Linked DNA regions of Homo sapiens. The protein of the gene in region 1 purifies or fractionates together with the protein of each later gene. This does not show direct contact. Each region holds a gene or a part of one and is shown on either strand. Other genes may lie near its edges. The genes, in order: CEACAM8 and NGLY1.

Region 1 (3,918 bases):
AGGGTAGGTCATAAAGCCTGACCCCAGGACACTCTGTGTGAGCACATGAGCCACACACACCCCATTAGATCTCCACACACAGCTGTGACCATTGTGAGGAGGACTAACACAGGCTCAGAGATCACACCAGAGAATCAGCCACAGAGAAAAACACGGATGTGGAATGTGATGGAGCTCGACATAACATGTGGGTGACCTCGTGTGAAATGTGCAGATCCATGTGGAATAAAACACGCAGCCGGACCTGGGACTGCGGCCACCCACACTTCCCTTCCAGTCCACCAGAGGGCGACAGAGTCCCTCCAGCCTGGAGCCTTCCCAGGGGCTGCTGACCTCCCTCAGCGGAACCCACAGCCCAGCAGGGTCCACCCTCACCAGGGCACCTCGGCCCACGTCCTCCTTACCCTCCAAGCTCCCCATACGGACTCTGTCAGCTCCTCCCTGCAGCCAGGCAGCCGGCAACATGAGGCCGCCCCCTCTGCAGGCAGCTCCTGCCCCACACACCCAATCCTTCCCTGGGCCTAGTTAAGGCATCTCCCAGGGCAGCGCTGGTGCACGGGATGCCACACTGGGCGCTTTCCCCTCGTGACCTCCCTCCATCCTCATCAACTCTTTCTGTGACTGCTCCCTAAATACCCGCCCCTGCTCCGTGTGTCCTGTTCTCTACGGCATGGCAGGCTGAGCCCAGCGCTGACAGAACCACAGCTGCCTGAGGGCCCACAGTGCCTCTGGGGAATCAGCCAGGCACCCTATGACCTTCCCTCTGCACCCCAGGAGGCTCGGAGAGTATGTGATGGTCACGCCCAGGCACTGTCTGGGATGTAGCCACCTGCCCCCTGCTGTCCTTCGTGAAGCCAGGAGGGAGGACAGCGCTCTCTCATGTACACAAGCTGGGGGGCAAGGAATGAGCTCCCTTTGTTCCCAGAACATGGCCCACCCCTACCTGCCCTCTCAGGTGTGAGCAACGTCCCCCCAGACGGGCTCCCCGGCCGCTGCCCATCCTTTCTCTACACAGAGGGGCCTGACCAGGTCCAAACCCTTAGGACAGACCCCAGGGGATATCAGCATGGGGAGGGCTGAGCCCATCCTGGCTGCAGAGTAAGTTGGGATGAGTCTCTCCAGCTCTGAGCCCCTGCTCTGTCCCAGGCTCCCTCTCCTGGATCTCAGAGAGCACTGTCTTGTGGGGCCCCTGGGCAACTCCCCACTTCCTGCTGCACCAACCATAGGGAAGGTGGGGTGACCACAGGACAGTCAGCCGGGCGAAAACAGAGGACACCCAAGATGGTCAGAGAGAACATGGAAGGCCCGAGCCCCAGCTCAGCTGCCAGAACCCAAAGAGCAAGAGAATGGCTGATACCTGTCCCTGATGACCACTAGGCCCACAGCCCCCACTGACCAACCAGAACAGCCCTCTCTCTCAGGAGGCATAAGAGATTATTTGCCCTGCACACCACCAGTAAGGACAGTCCCCTCTGGGATATCCAGGGCATTGAATGTCCATCCTTGGAAGCTGCAACCAAGCTTGACACAATGAGAGAGGGGGAGGATCCCTCTCACCAGTGAGCACACACCTCCCCAAAGCTCAGTGGTGGTGTCCCTGTGACAGGGTCCTTGCGGAGCGCTGACCTCCTGATCTGAAGGGAAGAGCCAGATGGGGATGGGAGAGGGCAGGGGGAGCGACTGTGCACCCCGACCTGGAGACATAGGCTGCAGGATGCTGAGGGCACAGGGCTGTGCTCACCCAGTCTCCAGGGTGTATGTGTGACTGTGTGTGTCTCTTTGTGTATGTGTGTGTCTCTGTGTGTGTGTGTCTGCATAGTGTGTGCAGAGGTTGGGTGAGAGAATCACTGCTGAAGGAGTCAGAGACCTCAGCAATTCCCAGGGGCCTGAAACACAGACAGAAAATAAAGGGAAAGGAGGGACAGGGAGGCAGGACTGAGAGGGGAGGGGACAGAGAGGTGTCCTGGGCACAGACCCCGCCCATGAGCCTGAGAAGTGCTCCTGCCCCGGGAAGAGGCTCAGCACAAAAGGAGGAAGGACAGCACAGCTGACAGCCGTGCTCAGAAAGTTTCTGGATCCCAGGCTCATCTCCACAGAGGAGAACACGCAGGCAGCAGAGACCATGGGGCCCATCTCAGCCCCTTCCTGCAGATGGCGCATCCCCTGGCAGGGGCTCCTGCTCACAGGTGAGGAGAGGACTTCCTGGGAAAGGACAGGAGGAGGAAACACAGTGACTGGCTGGGGTCTCCTGGGGAGGACGGGGCTCTGAGAGGGGACAGAGGACTTCTGTTGGAGCCTTAATAGAGGAGAGGACACAAGAGAGGGGAAGGGGTCACAACAGGAAAATCACATTGAACTGGAATTGGTAAGAGGCAGGAACATCTCAAGTGTTCCATATTCCTGGTTAATCATCACTGGCCACTACATTTTGAAAAATGATAATAATAACCATACCAGATGACACTTCAAATAAAGCATAACCAGGGTATGAAACATTGTCCTCAGCCAACAATGTCAGACATTGGCAAATAAGCCTCAGGAAGCAGAGGGCCCAGGGAATGCTCAGGAACTCATCCACAGGAGTCTGAAGCCTGTCCCAGGCACTGGGGTGCAGCCAACACCACACAAGTCCCTGCCCTCACAGAGCTCACACTCTCCTGGGGAGGAAGACAGACAAAGAGATCTAGAATGTGAGGTCAGGCGCTGACAGGAGCCCTGGAAGGAACACAGCAGGGAAAGGTCAGAAAGGGAAGACCCAGTGTCTCTAGAGGAGGTGTCAGAGAAAGGGTCTCCCAAGGATGCCCTGATGTGAGCAGGATCTGAGGGCAGTGTGGAGGGAGCCGTGCAGAACCCTGAAGAAGAGGATTCCACCAGGGAAATGCCAAGGTCAGAGGTGTTGAAGAAATGGGGGCTGTGCTGCTGACATTGACTCAGTAGGACACACACACATACACACACATAAAAACACACAAACTCCAAAGCTGATGTCCCCATTTTTCTACTCCAATACATATGTTGCAATATTGCTTGATGCTCTCTCCCCCTCCTAGCCTCACTTTTCACCTTCTGGAACCCGCCCACCACTGCTCAGCTCACTATTGAAGCTGTGCCATCCAATGCTGCAGAGGGGAAGGAGGTTCTTCTACTTGTCCACAATCTGCCCCAGGACCCTCGTGGCTACAACTGGTACAAAGGGGAAACAGTGGATGCCAACCGTCGAATTATAGGATATGTAATATCAAATCAACAGATTACCCCAGGGCCTGCATACAGCAATCGAGAGACAATATACCCCAATGCATCCCTGCTGATGCGGAACGTCACCAGAAATGACACAGGATCCTACACCCTACAAGTCATAAAGCTAAATCTTATGAGTGAAGAAGTAACTGGCCAGTTCAGCGTACATCGTGAGTGATTCCCCATGACCTCTGGGTGTTGGGGGTCAGTTCTACTTCCCACACACAGGATTGTTAGGCCTGGGCTGTGCCCATGTCCCTCTCTGCATTACATCCCACTTTAGGGTTTGGACATTTAGTGCAGGACACACTCAGGGGAGACAGACTTCCACAGACCAGAATTCCTTTCCTGCATCCAGACCCTGCAGACACTCACGGCAGAGGAATGACAGTCTGATGGGGGGACTCAGCAGAAGGAGATCAGACTCAGCCAGGCACCCCGTGCCCTCCCCATGGACCTGACCCTGAGAAAAACTCTAAAGAACTGGGTCAGGGCCTGACCTGAGGGGCTCCCTGGGATCCTGGGATCCTCACAGAGAAGTTCATCCCTGGAAGCCCCTGCTCCAGACCCCTGTCCCAGGATCCTGACTCCAGGTAACCCTGGGAAACCTGTGCCAGCACTGGGTTGTAGCCTCCTGGGCAGGGCCAACTAGGAGCAAAGATTTACCAGCCATCCAAG
Region 2 (3,918 bases), on another chromosome or scaffold:
TACTGACATGTTTATCACCCTGTGAAATACATTGAGTGTCAGGAAAAGATGCCCCATTTATCGAAAACTAGCTTTGATAAATGTAGGATTATTTTATAGTTCAGTTTTCTTAAGTGATAAGAAAGAGAGGCTCACTTGTGAGACAGTGTAGCATGGAAGCCAGGAATGCGAATGTTCTGCAGTGCACAAGGAAACTCCACTGAGAAAAGGCCCCACATGTTAATGGTGCTGAGACTGAGAAACCCTAATCTAATACACAGAATAAAGAGTTGAGAATAAAATTTTCTTTGTATTTCACAACCATCTGTGATTCTCAAATTACATATAGTAAAGAACAATGTTTTTGTTTTAATTTCCAATCCCTTATGGACCTATAACTTTTGTAAAATACACTGAAAATTTCATGGCAATATCAAATTGCTGTATACCGAACATTCAATTTCTCTACTTCTTGCTTCATTTTTATGCACTTGTAAACAAACAAAGAAAAAATTTCTGTACTACTTGTGTATGGGTAACAAATAATTTGTAGATTAGCACCAATCTGTGGACATTTTGAATAGCAAAAAAAATAGAGCATTTGTCTCTGAATATTCTGTAATAAACATGATTTTTGAAATTAGGGAAAAGTTTAAAAACATTCATTTAGTATTTATGACACTTTGGCCAATAGGCAATTGACTGGTGAAAAACAAATGCAAAATTTGTTAAAACTTATAAAATTAAAATATTTGGTTTTTGGTTTTGTTTTTACGTCAGAATACCTAGAGAACATGTGTAGATAGGACAAAGTTGATAAGTCATTTGCTAGCATTTGCCTACTCACCATATCATACCCCAGGGCAGGTGGCTTCTTATGGAAGTACATCTTCCTATGGATCCCAGATACTGCCTCAGAATCCTCCTTAACATAGTACTTAAAGAAGTCACTATCACTTTAAGGCAGTTGGTGTCAGGTATGAAACTTATCATCCTAAACTATGTTCTGAGGGTCTTTTGAATATAATACTATGATTAGCTTAACCTTACATTCTTTTAATTTTTTTTAAACAATTCTGATTTATCAAAGTAATTAAAAATCTCAAACCAAAACTTTTCATGTGCTGGTTACTTGTCCCAAGTGTACTATTCAAAATCTTAATTATGGTAAAAGAAATTTATGTCTTCCTTTTATTGCCATACTGTCTGTGTCAAGAATATGTCTTGGGCCAGGTGCGGTGGCTCACGCCTGTAATCCCCAGCACTTTGGGAGGCTGAGGCGGGTGGATCACCTGAGGTCGAGAGTTCGAGACCAGCCTGGTCGACATGGTGAAACCCTGTCTCTACTTAAAAAATGCAAAATTAGCCAGGAGTGGTGGTGCACCCCTGTAATCCTAGCTACTTGGGAGGCTGAGGTGGGAGAATTGCTTGAACCTGGGAGGTGGAGGCTGTAGTGAGCCGAGGTCACGCCACTGCACTCCAGCTTGGGAAACAGAGCAAGACCCCTCTCTCAAAAAAAAAAAAAAAAAAAAAAAAAAAGAATGTATCTTAAACTGAAGCGAGACCCCCCCCATCTCAAAAAAAAAAAATGTACCTTAACAGCACAGAATGTAATTTACTGTTTTTACTTATAGTAAAAACAACCATTGGTTTAGGGAAGAAAGAAAATCAGGTGACTATAAAGGTATACCTAGGTCATGTTTGTTGAAAGTAAAGTCTTTGAAGAACTATGACCTGGTTTTTTTTATATATAATCAAACTTTTGTTTTTTGTCAGAAACCCTAATGATGAAAAATATAGATCCATCCGGATTGGAAACACAGCCTTTTCTACTAGACTCTTGCCTGTCAGAGGAGCTGTTGAATGTTTATTTGAAATGGGCTTTGAAGAGGTAAGTATGTTCAAGGATTTCCTCTCCCCTCTTCATGCACAAAGCAGCCATTATCATGTTGGTGAATAATTGTTTGAATAAGATAATGTTTTTTAATTTATCATTTTGGGAATCAGTAGAAGTAGTTATTTCTTCATTGATTGGACATTTAAAAATCACAACAAGTATAGTTTAAAATTTCAGTAAAATGTAACAACGCTCCACAGAGAAATTCTTACGAGTCTCAGTTCTTTAAAATAAGGGTCATACATGCAACCCAAGGACCAAATGTGGTTCACTTTAGGCTTTTAGCTAAAACCTGATTTGTGAGCACACATGAATACTAATAGAGTCTAGCTACCTGTCTGTAGTAGGAAATGAAAAGAGTCTGAAGTAAACAGAAAAACTGAGTTGAGCTGCCACACAGAAGGGGTTTCTTCTGTGACAGGAGAGGAGTCTCAGTATTTTTTTTTGTTTTTACTTCAAATGAATATTTTGGTGTTATCTTTTGGAATCTTGTGGTGTAGTTTAATTTTATGACACATCGAAAGTAGTTATTAAGATTCTGAATTTTCTTTATGTTTATATCCTTAACTAGTTCTCCTTTGTAGAGCATTGAAAGAACTTGAACAAGTTACAGAGACTCAATAGTCAGTGGTCGTCAGAATAGGCAATTGTAGAAGTTGTTAAAGAGATATGCTGAGCTGCTATGTAAGATTCACTTTTCTTCATGCCTCTCTGCTTCCCTCCCCAGGTTCCATTTCAGGCCCTGAAGTAACAGTAGTGAACAAAGTAGTAGATATAATCCCACCTCACATAGAGCTTACATTCTAGTAGGTTAAACAGCCAGTAGATGTGAAAACAAGATGAGTGCAAAGAAGAAAATAAGACCAGGTAATAGAATAAAAAGTACTTTGCATGGCAGGCAGTGGTCAGGGAAGTCCTCTCTGAGGAGATGACATTTGAGCTGTGACTTGAAACATCTCAGGTACCTGAAACTCTCAGGTAAGAGTGTTTCAGGCAGAAGGATTAATGTGTGTAAAGGATTTCCAGCAGAAGTAACCGTGAAACAGAAATAAGCTGCATAGGGAGGCAGAGACCAGGACACATGGGGTCTTGAGGAATGTGGCAAAAGACTTAGACTTTATTTTAAGTGAGATGAGAAGCCACTGGGAATTTTTTTTTTTTTTTTTTTTTTTGAGATGGAGTTTCGCTCTTGTTGCCCAGGCTGGAGTGCGGTGATGCAATCTCAGCTTACCACAACCTTCGCCTCCTGGATTCAAGCGATTCTCCTGCCTCAGCCTCCTGAGTAGCTGGGATTAAAGGCATACGACAGCACGCCTGGCTAATTTTGTATTTTTAGTAGAGATGGGATTTCTCCATGTTGGTCAGGTTGGTCTCGAACTCTTGACCTCAGGCGATCCGCCCGCCTTGGCCTCCCAAAGTATTGGGATTACAGGCGTGAGCCGCCGTGCCCAGCCTGGAAAGTTTTAAGTAGGGAAAAATATTTTTGAAGATTATTCTAGCTTGCTGTAAAGAGAATTCCTGGAGGTGGTGGGATGGGGACAAGGGATGAAGCAGGGAGACCGGTTAGAAAGCTTATTACATTAGTCTAAATAAGAAATGGTAGTGGTTTGTATAAAGTCCATGAAGGCAGGGTTTTTTGTCATTTCTGTTCCCTGTGTTGCTAGCTCCTGGAATAATGCTGGTGCATTACAGATGTTAGGTACTCAATAAAGATTTGTTGAATTAAGTACTGATGGTGGAGATGGAGAGAAGTAGATGGATCCAGGATTTCTTTTTGTGACAGAATCAACAGGACTTACTGGTGATTTAGATGTAAGATATAAGGGAAAGGAAGGAATCGGGGACTTACCTATGTTTTGGTTTAAGCAACTAATTGGATGGGAGTATCATTAATTGAGATAGAGAAGCCTTGGAGAGTAGCAGGTTTTAGGGGAGAAACTAACACCTGTCTTTGGACAATTGTGACCAATTTGCTGTTAAATATTCAAGTAGAGAAGCCAAGTAAGCAGTTGGCTATATGAGTTTACAACCCCAAAGGAGAG

What was found.
Region 2: the proteins of CEACAM8 (region 1) and NGLY1 purify together in Homo sapiens (co-immunoprecipitation; 2 studies listed by BioGRID and IntAct, with this or other methods). This does not show direct contact.

The regions. Positions count from the first base shown.
Region 1 is NC_000019.10:42,593,033-42,596,950, reverse strand, and holds the start of CEACAM8 (cell adhesion molecule CEACAM8 precursor), read left to right. Parts: upstream 1-2,026; 5' UTR 2,027-2,122; coding exon 2,123-2,186; intron 2,187-3,050; coding exon 3,051-3,410; intron 3,411-3,918. UniProt on the Homo sapiens protein: Cell surface glycoprotein that plays a role in cell adhesion in a calcium-independent manner. Mediates heterophilic cell adhesion with other carcinoembryonic antigen-related cell adhesion molecules, such as CEACAM6.
Region 2 is NC_000003.12:25,776,526-25,780,443, reverse strand, and holds part of NGLY1 (peptide-N(4)-(N-acetyl-beta-glucosaminyl)asparagine amidase), read left to right. Parts: intron 1-1,755; coding exon 1,756-1,870; intron 1,871-3,918. UniProt on the Homo sapiens protein: Specifically deglycosylates the denatured form of N-linked glycoproteins in the cytoplasm and assists their proteasome-mediated degradation. Cleaves the beta-aspartyl-glucosamine (GlcNAc) of the glycan and the amide side chain of Asn, converting Asn to Asp.